Linked DNA regions of Homo sapiens. The protein of the gene in region 1 interacts with the protein of each later gene in a pairwise test. Each region holds a gene or a part of one and is shown in the gene's direction. Other genes may lie near its edges.

Region 1 (4,298 bases):
TACAACCCAAAAAAATAATTGGCCCGGCATGGTGGCTTGCGCCTGGGGTCCCAGCGACTCGGGAGGTTGAGCGGGACGGACGGCTTGAGCTCAGGCCTTCCAAACAAGCCTGGGCACATAGCGAAACCTCGTCTCTCCAAAAAAATCCGAAAATTATCCCGATGTGGTGGCGCTCACCTGTAGTCCAGCTACTCCGGAGGCCGAGACAGGAGAATCACTTGAACTGATTCTCCTATCTCAGCCCCCCCCCCCCCCCCCCCCCCCCCCCAAGTAGCCGCAGCGAGCCGAGATGGCACCGCTGCACTCCAGCCTGGGCTACAGAGCGAGAACCCGTCTCTGTAAAAGACACAAGGATGCAAACCAACCAAATAACCCACTGTGGGATCCCCTCCAGCGTCCTGCTGTGTTTCCCGCTGTCTTCCTCCACCCGTGAGTGCACCCACAGCAATAAAAGCCAGCGGTGTGGGTCTCACACGCATCTCCAGCCCCGTCGCCATCGCGCTGAGCTCGACTCTTTTTACAAAAGGCCACTTGACATCCTCACTTGGCAGTTCAAAAGCCCCTTCAACCAGATGTGCGCAAGCCAAGCTCCGCAACTTCCCGTTCAGAGCAGGTTCTCGGTCCACCTCTGCCTGAATGAACCGGCGGGCTACCAAGGCCGCAGTCTCTTCCTCAAGGGCTGTCCACACTGGGTCTCGCTTTCTCTTGGAAATTTCTCTCCCACCAGGGAACTTTCTCCTCCTCTACCTCCCTGAGTCTCAGTCTAACAGCACCCTGCGCCCAACCCCGAGGGCTGCAATAGCCTTCTTGCCTCTCCTGACTTATTCTGCGGACCCTGGGTTGGCGCTCCTTCACAGCCAGGCTGGTCGTTTCTGAAATGTTAACCCGCTGCCGGACACCGTTCCACGGTTTTCCGCTGCCTTGGAACAAGACCAGCTCCTGCGCGGACCCTGCCTCCACCTCGCACCACCTCCGGGCCTGGACTTGGCCTCCCGTCCATTCCCAGAATGTGCCGGGCTCCCTTCCAGTCCGGGCCTCAGCACACTCTCTTCACTCCCCTTCCTCCCTCCCTGCCTCTCCCAACCCGGTTCAGGATGACTAATTTCAAACGTTATGTTCCAGATTTCAGCCCAGATATCCCCGCTTTGGATGCTTTCCTTGACCATGCTCAGATCTAAGCTAATCGCATCTTCCTGTCAGCCGCTTTCAGGGCACCACACCTCATTGTGCTGACACTCAGAGGTCATTATGCAATTTTTTTTCCTCGATGATTAGATTAATCAATCAACCACGGACGTCTAGAAATGGCGGCATCTCAGAAGGGCCCCCATTTGACTGGCAGGGGACTGGCCCAATGCGCCTCGCAAGCCCAGCCAGGCCCGCCCCAGCCGGCCCCCCTCTGACGACGCCTGTCCCTTACGCGACTGCCTTGCTGCCATATAAGAGGGACGGCGCTCGGCCTCCAGCAGTCGGCTTTCTGCTGGGCTCGGAGCCAGAACCTGCTGCGTGCTCCCTCCAGACTCCCTGGCTGCGGGTGGACTACCTCAGAGCTACAGCGGTGAACCTGTGGACACCTCCGACTCCTCGGGCCTCTCTTCGTCGAAGAGTCTCCTAATTTTCAGATCTCCGGAGCCAGCTGTGGGAAGATCAGGTGTGTGTCTGGGGGTCCCGGAGGCGTGGACGGATCTCGGGTGGGTGCAGTTGGGGACAGAATCCTCATTCCCCTAGAAAGGCCACGGCCATCCCCCTGCCTTGTCACCTCTGTCTTCCTAAATCCGTTCTTGCTCTCTTGTTTTTCTCCCCAGCCCCTCCCGCCGATTGCTCATGGAGGAACCAAGGCCTTCGAAGCGACTTCGCTCCATGGCCCCTAATCAAGGTACATCAAACGCCTGCCACTCCTCTCTTTTTAATTTCGTCTGTTCCCCAATTCTTCCCCAATGGTTGACACTCAAACTCAATCAAGCATTCTCTGTTTCACCTTCTCCTAGCCTGCCTCAACCTGGGCTGCTTGTTGGAAGTCAGCTCCCGGGTTCCACATCATCTGGGAAATTCCTTTCCCTCTTCCGAACCGTAATCCCATTTCCCAAATCTGAGATTTGCTGTTGTTGTCGCTGTTTCCTTCTGTTTAGTTTTGTATTACTGTTTCTCCGTAGCAGAGCGAGTCCTCACGCTACGTCTTGATCTATGATAAACCGGTACTTCCACCTTGTTCTTTCCCGGAGGAGTTGGAATTTTCCGGCTGTTGCCACGTTGTTCTCCAAAACTTTTCCCTTCATACGCTGAGTGTCCTAAATCTTTTAATCTTGTCTAGTTTGACAGATGCATAACAATAAAGCATCCACTGAAAGGAAATTCTTTAACATCTTGCTTGTCTGAAACATCTTCATTCTCCCCTCCCAGATTCTTCAGCGAAACTTCGGTTGGACAGGAAATTTTAGGTGGGAAATTCATTTCCCTTGAAATTTCGAAGACATTTTCTGTTATGTTCTAGACTGAACTGCTGCTTTTGAGATGTCTGACTTTTGAGACATGTGGAATCCTAGCCCTTTCCATGTGACTTTTCCTTTCTCTGTCTCCCGCTCTCTAGAATCTGTTAGAATCTTCTCTTTTTCCTCAGCACTCTGAAATTTTCTGGTGAAATGTCTCAGCCACAGCATACCTCTAATTCTCTTATATTTCATCCTTCTTTCCATCATTTTAGGTTTTTGCTTTGTTCTGTGGGAGACCTTCTCAACTTCTTTCTCCAACTTCCGTGGAGAGTTTTGTTTCTTCTCTCACAATTTTAACTTCAGAAATCCCTCTTTTCTCTGAGTATTTATTTGTAAAAGTATCCTATAACTGCTTGACGGGTGAAGTTCCTTCTGTCTCTCTCTGCTCACGCTCCGCTTCTCTTTTAGCCTCAGGTGGGCCTCCTCCAGAGCCAGGCTGCTGTGTTGCGGACCCTGAAGGCTCCGTGGAAGCAGATGGGCCCGCACAGCCAGCCCAACCCGCAAAACCCATCGCTTACGTGAAACCCTTCAGACGGCAGCCCCCAGCTCGCCCAGAGTCACCCCCTCCTGCAGAGAGAGGCCGGCGCCGGGGAGGAAGCCGGCGGCCAGGGCGAGGCCGTGGCAGAAGGGCTGGGCCCCGCGGGGACGCTGGCCAGAGACAGGGGGCAGAAGGCTTGATGGCACCGGACGTGCACATCCAACTGGACCACCATGGAGAGCCAGGCCACCAGGGGGAACCGGAAATCACGGAGACCGCAGCCTTCTCCCTTTCTGAAACAGGTCCTCCGCCTGGAACTGTGCAGGAAGGCCCTGGCCCCGACGTGGCGCAACCTGAGCTGGGGTTTCAGGAGCCGCCCGCTGCTCCTGGGCCTCAGGCTGTTGACTGGCAACCCGTCTTGACCCTCTATCCCTGCATCGGGTTTAGGGCTCTGGGTGACTCAGCGGTTTTACAAGTCATTCAAACCCCCCAGGGCACCTACGTGCAAGGGGTCCCAGTGTTCCTCACCGACATTGCGTATTGACCACTATCTGCCACCCACGTTGTTCCCAGCCTCCCTTCCTTCCACCTGGACGTTCCCCCCAGCCCCACTTCTGCTCCACTCCTCCCCCGACTGGACCTGAAGCCTGAGCTTCCCCTGAACTTGGAGTACGCAACTTACAACATGCAAGCTGCCAAACACCCTTTCTGTACAAGGCGATTGGAATGGAACTGTCATGTACAGTGAAAGTACACGTCACGTTTTTCAGCCAAGAAGAAGCCAACCCAGACAACCTGGAAGAAGTGGGATGCAACAAGGATCACTAAGCATGGAAATTAGGAAACTGTATTCTTAAGTCCAGAGAAGTACGATTCTGGAAAAAGGATTGATGACCTAGAATTAAAATTCCAGAAGACACTCATATAGACATGTGGGACATGCGAAAACTCAGAAGGAGCTAGAAGTTACTAAAGTGCTTCTCTAGTGCCTGGAGACGATAGACTGGCTGAATATAAGAGCAATAAAAATCTAGACTGACACATTTTTAAGTCTCAACGTGGGTACCCTTTGGGAACCACTAAATGAATTGGAATAGAAGGTAAAATTTCAAACAGATTGAGGAAAAAGGGGATCAAAGGACATGTGACGAATCAGACAAAAGGTGTTGGGGTGGGGGGGGGGGCGGTTAACGGAAGCAAGGAGAGTGCATGACTCACTGGAACCGCTAAACCAGGAATCAGTAATTTGACGGCAGTGTCCTTGGCTTCCTCCTGGCTTTAATGGGAATATTTTGAATGTTTCACCATTAACCAAGATGTTGGCTGTAGGT
Region 2 (3,569 bases), on another chromosome or scaffold:
GCTCCTTTGATTAAAAGAGTCACAGGCTGCAGTCACCCCTGGCTCTTCCTGAATCTCCCCCTCACCCAAAGCTCCTCTACCTTCACACACCAAGACTCCTGGTCCCTGAGTCTCTGGCTGGGAGGTGAATATAGGGGCAGGTAGCATTCTTGTGACCTTATTCTGAAATTTGCTGTCCTAGTTAGCAGCTTCCTGAGGGGAGAGGGACACAAGAAGCTTTTAGAGATGGTTTCAACCCTCTGGGTGCTAATTGGGAATGAGACTCTCCCTAGGTTGAGACTGGGGACAGCTATTCTGGGTCTGCAAGATGAGGTGTGGGGGTGGAGAGGCCAGAGGGGGGATCAGGAAGTTTCCCCAAATAGCCTGGCCTGAAGCCACACGTGGGAGCCAAGCCCCAAGAAGGTGGCCTAGATGAAGGGGTGGAGGGGGAGCTGTCCATTTGGCACATGGGCCTGACCCTTGGGAAGCTGGGCATAGGGCAAAAATCAGGAGCAGGACTGGTTTTGTATCCTCTTTTCTTTTTTGTTTGAGATGAAGTCTCGCTCTGCCACCCAGGCTGGAGTACAGTGGTGCGATAACAGCTCACCGCAGCCTCCGCCTCCCAGGCCCAAGCAATCCTCCCACCCCAGCCCTCAGTCCAGAGCCTCACGAATAGCTGGGACTACAGGCACACACCTGGATAATTTTGTTACATTTTCTGTAGAGACAGGGGTCTCCCTCTGTTGCCCAGATTGGTTTCAAACTCCTGGGCTCAAGCGATCCTCCTGCCTCAGCCTCCCAAAGTGCTAGGATTACAGGCTCATGCCTGTAATGCCACCATGCGCAGCCAGTCTTCTCTTTGTTCTCCCACTGAAATGGGCTTCCTTGGAACTTGATGTCATAAGTGGGTGTGTCTCTACCCTGTCCCAGCCCCTACCCCCAAGCCCCAGCCTACTGTCCTAGCTCTCATCCCAGTGACACTGATTTACTCATTCATTTAACCAATATTTATGGAGCACCTACTATGTGTTATACTTGCTAGCCTCTGCCCTGGGAATTCAGGAGGAACAAGACAGGGTTCCAAGAGGGAACAAGATAGGTTCTCTTTTTTTTGAGACGGAGTCTCGCTCTGTCGCCCAGGCTGGAGTGCAGTGGCAGGATCTCGGCTCACTGCAAGCTCCGCCTTCCGGGTTCACGCCATTCTCCTGCCTCAGCCTCCCGAGTAGCTGGGACTACAGGTGCCCACCACTGTGCCCAGCTAATTTTTTGTATTTTTAGTAGAGATGGGGTTTCACCATGGTCTCGATCTCCTGACCTCGTGATCCGCCCGCCTCTGCTTCCCAAAGTGCTGGGATTACAGGCGTGAGCCACCGTGCCCAGCCTAAGATAGGTTCTCAAGAGGGAATAAGAGGCTGGGTGTGGTGGCTCACGTCTGTAATCCCAGCACTTTGGGAGACCAAGGTGGGTGGATCACTTGGGGTCAGGAGTTCGAGACCAGCCTGGCCAACATGGTGAAAACCCATCACTAATTAAAAATACAAAAATTAGTGCGTGATGGCGCAAGCCTGTAATCCCAGCTACTCGGGAGGCTGAAGCAGGAGAATCGCTTGAACCTGGGAGGTGGAGGTTGCAGTGAGCCGAGATCGCGCAATTGCACTCCAGCCTGGGCGACAGAACGAGACTCCATCTCAAAAAAAAAAAAAAAAAAAAAAAAAAAGGGAATAAGAGGAAATGGGAAGGAAGGAAAACTACCCTAGAGAGAGCAATGCAGGAAGGCGTCTTTCAGAGGTGATAGTTAAATATCAGCCATGAGAAGGAGGAGGGAGGGGTCAGAAGGAAAAGAGCACTCAAGGCAGAGAGAACAGGCTTTGAGAAAGCTCCCAAGTGAGGGGAAACTCGCTGTGCTCCAGGGACAGAAAGAGCCCAGTGTGGCTGGAAGGTGGGGAGTTATAGGAAACAGATCAGAGGGACACAGGATATTTTAACCACTACGGATATTTTGACCCGAAGGATGTTTTGAATGCAAACATTTTAAACCAAAACATACTAACCCTGAAAATGTTTTAAGAAGGTGTTCTCCAGCTTGAACTCTATTCATCCAACTTAATTCTTTGATCAGATTTTTGTTTTTCCCCTGTAGTACAGTTAAACAAATGTCCATGTTTTTCATTCTTTTGTAATTTTACTGAAACTGTTTTCATCGGCATCGATTCCGTACACATTCTGCTGCTGAGATTGGAGGCATCCATCAGTGTGGGGGCTGCAGGCTCTTGACACGAGTTTCTGCCATTGTGTGATTGACTGGGTAACCCCATTCCATTTTGGAAGATTTAAATTAAAACCAAAAAAAAAGATTCGTGGTCAAGATTTGATTCTTTTGTGCATTTTAGTCAATAATGAGTTTTCTTATATCCATTTCTAGCCATCCTCAGTGTTACTTCTACCCGTAATATTTTTAGGTGGAGAGTTGTATTTATATCTCAGTTGATCTGTGGGAGGAATCAGGTGGAAGGGGTGGACTGGGAGAGAAGGGCTTGGGGGAGGGGAAAGGCCCGGATCTTCCAGGCTGGGGCAAGCATTCTCCTAAAGCAAAGGGTGAAGCCTTTAGAGCTTTTATCCCAGAGCATGACTTGATCAGATTTGCCTTTATTTTTATTTATTTATTTATTTATTTATTTAGAGACAGGGTCTTATTCTGTCCCCTAGGCTGGAGTGTGGTGGTGTGATCACGGCTCACTGCAGCCTCGACCTCCCAGGTTCAAGCTATCCTCCCACCTCAGCCTCCTGAGTAGCTGGGACTATAGGTGTGCACCACCACACCCAGCTAATTTTTGTATTTTTTGTAGAGATGGAGTTGCCCAGGCTGGAGAGTTGCCCTTTTAATAGTCTCCCTCTGGCTGTGTGAAGATGGGACTGGGAGGGAGAGGAAGTGGGGAAGTAGAGGCAGGGAGACCAGTGAGGTGGCTGTTCTGCCAATCCAGGTGGTAAAGAGAAGTGAACCGGGCCAGGCATGGTGATGCGTGTGCCTGTAGTCCCAGTGTGTTGAGAGGCCAAGGCGGGAGGATCGCTTGAGGCCAGGAGGTCGAGGGTGCAGTGAGCTGTGATCGCACCACTGCACTCCAGCCTGGGTGACGGGTTACAGATAGAGTATGGGGTAAAAAAGGGCAGGGTAATCTCTGTCCCACTCCCCAGGATCCCACCGCAGCCCTCCTGCAACATGCAGAATGCCCTTGCTGCCATTCCCACACCCTTAGCTCCCTGCTTCTGGTATTTGAGGCAGCTTGGAGCTCTTCCCCCCAACACCCAGGCTCTGGCCACTTGGAGTTTGTACAGAGTCGAGACCAAGAACTGGGGCGTTTCCCTTGGAGGTTTCTCCTTCTTTGCACTGAGGGAGAGTCAGGGATGCCCTGCTGAGGTTGGGGTGGGGGATGGAAGGGATGGGAATGGCCCTGGGATCCACCTACCTCGAGTCCCGTGGCTGGAGCCGCCCAGGCGGCCGCAGACCTGGCGGTGAAACAGACCCAGACACAGGGCGCTTGTCCGGCGGTGCTCCGCCCTCTGGGTGTGACACTGGGCAGGGAGACAAAGGG
Region 3 (3,569 bases), on another chromosome or scaffold:
GTGTGTGTGTGTGTGTGTGTGTGTGTGTGTGTAGAAATTTAAATTAGCATTTAAATAAAAAGCTTAGCAGTCATCAGGTACTGCAATGTTATATTTTTTGGCTATATATTACAGTATAGCTGAAACTCTTCAAGATGGGGGGGGCACTGTTCATTTTACCAAGAATGTACCTTGTTCTTTACCCTGTCCAGACTTTACCTGCTGTGTAACTTGAGGTCTTTTTTTGTTTTTTGTTTTTTTTTAAAGACAGCGTCTCCCTCTGTCACCCAGGCTGGAGTGAATTGGCAGGGTCTCGGCTCACTGCAACCTCTGCCTTCCAGGGTTCAAGCGATTCTCACACCTCAGCCTCCTGAGTAGCTGGGACTACAGGCACGTACCAACACGCCCAGCTAATTTTTGTGTTTTTAGTAGAGATGGAGTTTGGCCATGTTGGCCAGGCTGGTCTTGAATTCCTGGCCTTAAGTTATCTGCCCACCTAAGTCTCCCAAAGTGCTGGGATTACAGGCGTGAGCCACTGCGCCCAACCCACATAATAATCACATCAAATGCCACTGTCTCTACAAAGCCTCCATTAATATTGTTGGCTGACATTAATTTTTACCTCTTCTATGTTCCTGTGTCATTTGTACTTATTACTATAACCATTATATGATTATTAGAGTTCAAGCTCCTTGAAGGCAGGATTTGTGTTTTGTCATCTTCGTTTAATACTTCGGTCAAAATAAACACATAATAGATAACTGGTGATTTAAATTGGATCTAGAAAACTCAGGTTTGATGAAAAAGTCTTTTATTATTCTTTAACCCGTCTTAGAATTTGGGCTCTAAAATCAGGGATTGCTAAATCTATTGTGTGTTCTGTTTGCTGTTACCAACATTCAAATGTAATTCACACTGACCGTGTGCAGTGTGGCTCATACCTGTAATCCCAGCAGTTTGAGAGGCTGAGGCAAGTGGAATGCTTGAGCCCAGAAGTTTGAGACCAGCCTGGACACCATGGTGAAACCCTGTCTCTACAAAAAATACAAAAATTAGCTGGGCGTGGTGGTATGTGCCTGTAGTTCTAGCTACTTGTGAGGCTGAGGTGGGAGGATCACTTGAGCCTGGGAGGCAGAGATTTCAGTGAGCCAAGATCTTCACCACTGCACTCCAGCCTGGGCAATAGAGTGAGACCCTGTCTCAAAGAAAAAAAAAAGTGGCTTAAACAGGGTAGAAGTTTATTTCTCCTTCACATTGGTCTGGACATGAACTGTCCAGTATGGGTAGAGTAGTTCTGTCATCTTCACCATGGGGCTTTTGTAATTGGATCCAAGGTTGCAGGTTCATTCCTTATTGTCTCCTAGCAAATGGAAAAGGGGAAGAGGCCAGGGGAACACAGGCCCAGTGTGGTTAATGGCAAAATATATCATTTCTGTTTACATTCTACAGGAGAGGCTGAGAAATGTAGTCTTCCTATCAGGACAGCCACATTTCTAGGTAAAATTCAGAAGCCTTTATTACTTAAAGGAAGAATGGGAAAATTGATATTAAAGATAGTGATTTTTGCCATAATTTTCAGATTTATTTCCATTTTTAAAAATAGTAGATCAGTTGTTCAGGAATCAAAACATTTGAGTATTTGACTGAGTCATCAGATCTAGCAGATTTTTAAAATTATACAGTCGATTCCCTTACTGTAGGTGATACAGAAGGTTATATAAGAGCCTTCCTAGTGAGAACTTTACCATCTACTTTAGGAGACAGAACTAATTACAAATGAAAAAAGAGTAGATGCCTATTGTGGCACATTCTGTGTCACATGCTGTTATGAGTGTAGACATTTACAGGAGATAAATATTTCCTATAATCTAATATAGAGGAAAACAGGAAACTGTTAAAGGTTTGGAGTTGGAAACTGAAATGGTGCGAGAGTGTAAACTGGTAATGGAATTCAGATTGGGTGAATTATCTTTCTCCCTCTTCTTCTGATAATGAATTCAGAGTGGATGAGCTCCCTCCCTTTTGCTCTGCCTAATCTCTGAGGTTACCTAATACTTTTCAGCCTCAGTTACCACATCCAGATGTTCTTTCTTAGCCCAATTACTCTTGACTTCTTTGGAATATTTGATACTATTGAACATCTTTTTTTTTTCCCTGTTTTTGAAAACAGCTTTTCTTTGAAACGACCTCATTCTCTACTTTTACTGCCTTTCATTTTCTCCCTAAGATTTAGTACTGTGCTTTTTTGCTCTTTTTGTTCTTGATACTGCAACTCTCATCTTAAAAGAAGGTGTGAGGCTGGGCGTGATGGCTCATGCCTGTAATCCCAGCACTTTGGGAGGCCGAGGCGGGCGGATCACGAGGTCAGGAGATCAAGACCATCCTGGCTAACATGGTGAAACCCCGTCTCTACTAAAAATACAAAAAATTAGCTGGGCGAAGTGGCGGGCGCCTGTAGTCCCAGCTACTCAGGAGGCTGAGGCAGGAGAATGGCATGAACCTGGGAGGTGGAGCTTGCAGTGAGCCGAGATCACGCCACTGCACTCCAGCCTGGGCAACAGAGCGAGACTCCGTCTCAAAAAAAAAAAAAAAGAAGGTTGTGTGTGTGTGTGTGTGTGTGTGTGTGTGTGTGTATGTGTGTATGTATCCAGTTTGAACTTTAGTCCTATATTCTAAATCGCCTGCCAGACATTTTCATCTTGGTGTATCACTATCATTTAAAGCATTCAATGGATCTCCTGCAGTTTTCTGACTCCACGAGGACCCTCATGCTTTATATCCTAGGTGCAGAACTTGCATTTTGGCCTCTACCTTCTCCTTTGCCACTGTATTTTCTATGAGTAAGCCCTGTCAGTTCTTCCTGGTGATTTCATATTTGTTCGTTTCCATTCTTACTGCTGCCACATTTATCAGTCCCTTAATTACGTTAGTTATGTGAAAGCAAATCAGGAAGTGTGTTGAATGCTTGAGTTAAAGATTGTGGAGAATGCTCTAGAACCTTGCTCTTCAAAATGTCATCTGTGGATGGCAGCATGGGCATCACTGGGAACTTGTTAGAATGCAGAACCTTAGGAGCTACTCTGGGGGTCACAGAATTAAGAGTCTTCATTTTCATGATATTTCCAGTTGATGTGCATGCACATTAGGGTTTGAGAGACACTGATCTAGAATTCACTGTGCATTTCTGCTTCCCTTCTCTCTCCCTTCTCCCCCTGACCCTCCTTTTTTTTCTGACTAGAGTGCGGTGGTACCACCATAGCTCAAAGGACCTTTGAACTCCTGGGCTCAAGCTATCCTTCTGCCTCAGCCTCCCAAGTAGTTAGACCTGCAGGCACTCACCACTACGTGTGGTGTGTAGTTTTCAATTTTTATTAGAGACCACTGTGGTTTCACTATGTTACCCAGGCTGGTCTCAAAACTCCTGGCCTCAAGTTATCCTCTCACCTTGGCTTCCCAAGTGCAGGGATTATAGGTGTGAGCCACTGTTTCTGGCCCACTGCATATCTGTTTAACCTTTCTTAGTTTGAGACTTACTTGCTAAAAATAATTAAACCCTCCAGCTATTGCTCTGTAACTATTTACCTTAATGT
Region 4 (2,279 bases), on another chromosome or scaffold:
TGGCCTCTCAGGTATGGATCCTTCTTCCTGCCTCCACCAGTCTTTCCACCTTTCGTCCAGTTTCCCTGTCCTTTGCCAGCAGACCCTCACCCGATCCCTTTGGCCTAGTAGCTGTAATAATTTTTACTGAGCCATTACCGGGTTCAAGGCTTAGCTCATGGAGTTATTATGACTTCATTCTCCCCATTCACCCCAAAAATCTTTAAAATTTTTCCGAAGTTAAAGGCTGTTTCCAGCAGAGTAGATAGGTAGTAACAAAGATAACAGCTGGACACAGCACTTACTTTCAGGCATTCTTCTAAGTGCTTGCTCTGTATTGACTCATTTGACCTAACCCTTCAGGGGTACTATTATCACCTCCACTTTACAGATGAAGGCGAAGACGCCCAGAGATGTTGAGTGACTTGTCCAAGGTCACACAGCGGGTACATGGTGGAGCTGAGACTCAACCCCAGGCTATCTGACTCCAGGGCCTCTTTGAGGGTTTCTGATTTTAGCTTCAGAGCTGACATGTCTCTTAAGTGTCTCATAGCCAACCCTTCCCCAGGAATGGGACTCTAGGCCTGGGGAGGGGAAGTGACTACTTCCTGAGTAGGAGTTCAGTCTTGATTCCTCCAGCCTTTCCTCCCAGTTCGAAGCTCTTCTCCCCACCCCCAACCCCAAGCAGGCCAGCCTATTCCTCGAAGGGTTAATGGTTTGTGCACACGTGGGAAATGTCAGAGGACAGGGATAAGCAGGGACTGGGGCAGGCCTGGAGGCCTGTGTGTGGCTCAGACAGCTGTGCTGGGGGGAGGTCTCAGGCGGCTGGAAACACCCTGAACTCGATGAAAAGGTTCTATGAGGTTTTGCATGCTGTTGCCTTTTGTTTTGTCTGAGCACATTCGTCTGGTCTCCCTTCCCTGCGCCAAGAAACCAGATTGGCCTCCCCACTCCAGGGAGGAGGGAGCTGAGGAAAGGCTTGGCTTCTGGCATTTCTCAATTCCTCCCATCTCCTCTGCTGGCTTCTCCGGGAGACCCTGTCCTAGGTGGGCAGGTGGTTGGTACACCAAGGACTACCTGAACAGACAAAACCTTAAGGGCACCTCAAGGCATGATGCAGAGAACTGGCCCAGGCCAGGGTGCCTGCATCTTAAATGCTGCTTCTGCCAATTCCCAGCTTAGTGCACTCCTGAACTCCTGCGGCCTACCTCGGCTTCTCACCTGGAACACCAGTGAATCATGCTGGACGATTTCTTTGTCTCTGTTTATAACAAATGCCCTTTTTCCCTCCCCCAGCCCCAGTTTCCTTTTGCTTAAGATCTTCACTGTCTGTTTTTTTTGTTTTGTTTTGTTTTGTTTGGAGAAACTTCTAGGATTGGGGTGGGAGGATGGGGGTTGGGGAAGAAGAAAGATTTAAAAAATTATTCCTACTAATTTATGTCCTCCGGCTTCCCCTTGGTTACCTCTGTGGGGTAAACTGAATCTGTATCCCCATTTAACAGGTGCAAGGAGATTTCCTGGGGGCTGCACACACTGTGTGCAGCATATTGCAGGCTTTCACTCATTTAATATCTACAAAGTCCTCAATAAGTATATGAATTACTTATGATTTCCCTGTTTTTTCTTCCTATAAGGAAGCTGAGGCACAAGTTAATCAAAGTCTCTTGGCCTAGGGTGACACAGCTAAGATTTGTACCTAGAGATTTCTGAGTGTTGACTTCTCTCCTGCCCCCACCTATCTCCCCCCCCAAAAAAAAAAACACAACAACAACAACAACAGAACATACCAGGGATTCATGGCTTGCCCAATGTTGGAGGGGGAGAAGAGAGGAGAGGGATGAGATAAGCTCCTCCCACCCGGCTGACTCGCTGTGTGTCTCTTTTCTCACCCCAGGGCCTGGCCATGTCCCCTTTCGGAAGCCTGTTCCCTTACCCCTACACGTACATGGCCGCAGCGGCGGCCGCCTCCTCTGCGGCAGCCTCCAGCTCGGTGCACCGCCACCCCTTCCTCAATCTGAACACCATGCGCCCGCGGCTGCGCTACAGCCCCTACTCCATCCCGGTGCCGGTCCCGGACGGCAGCAGTCTGCTCACCACCGCCCTGCCCTCCATGGCGGCGGCCGCGGGGCCCCTGGACGGCAAAGTCGCCGCCCTGGCCGCCAGCCCGGCCTCGGTGGCAGTGGACTCGGGCTCTGAACTCAACAGCCGCTCCTCCACGCTCTCCTCCAGCTCCATGTCCTTGTCGCCCAAACTCTGCGCGGAGAAAGAGGCGGCCACCAGCGAACTGCAGAGCATCCAGC

What was found.
Region 2: the proteins of PRR20D (region 1) and ZNF385C interact in a two-hybrid assay, tested with the Homo sapiens proteins (one large-scale study listed by BioGRID).
Region 3: the proteins of PRR20D (region 1) and SMAP1 interact in a two-hybrid assay, tested with the Homo sapiens proteins (one large-scale study listed by BioGRID).
Region 4: the proteins of PRR20D (region 1) and TBX3 interact in a two-hybrid assay, tested with the Homo sapiens proteins (one large-scale study listed by BioGRID).

The regions. Positions count from the first base shown.
Region 1 is NC_000013.11:57,159,195-57,163,492, forward strand, and holds the start of PRR20D (proline-rich protein 20D), read left to right. Parts: upstream 1-1,437; 5' UTR 1,438-1,651; intron 1,652-1,805; 5' UTR 1,806-1,824; coding exon 1,825-1,876; intron 1,877-2,897; coding exon 2,898-3,511; 3' UTR 3,512-4,298.
Region 2 is NC_000017.11:42,088,405-42,091,973, reverse strand, and holds part of ZNF385C (zinc finger protein 385C), read left to right. Parts: intron 1-3,569.
Region 3 is NC_000006.12:70,726,883-70,730,451, forward strand, and holds part of SMAP1 (stromal membrane-associated protein 1), read left to right. Parts: intron 1-3,569. UniProt on the Homo sapiens protein: GTPase activating protein that acts on ARF6. Plays a role in clathrin-dependent endocytosis. May play a role in erythropoiesis.
Region 4 is NC_000012.12:114,671,897-114,674,175, reverse strand, and holds part of TBX3 (T-box transcription factor TBX3), read left to right. Parts: coding exon 1-11; intron 12-1,873; coding exon 1,874-2,279.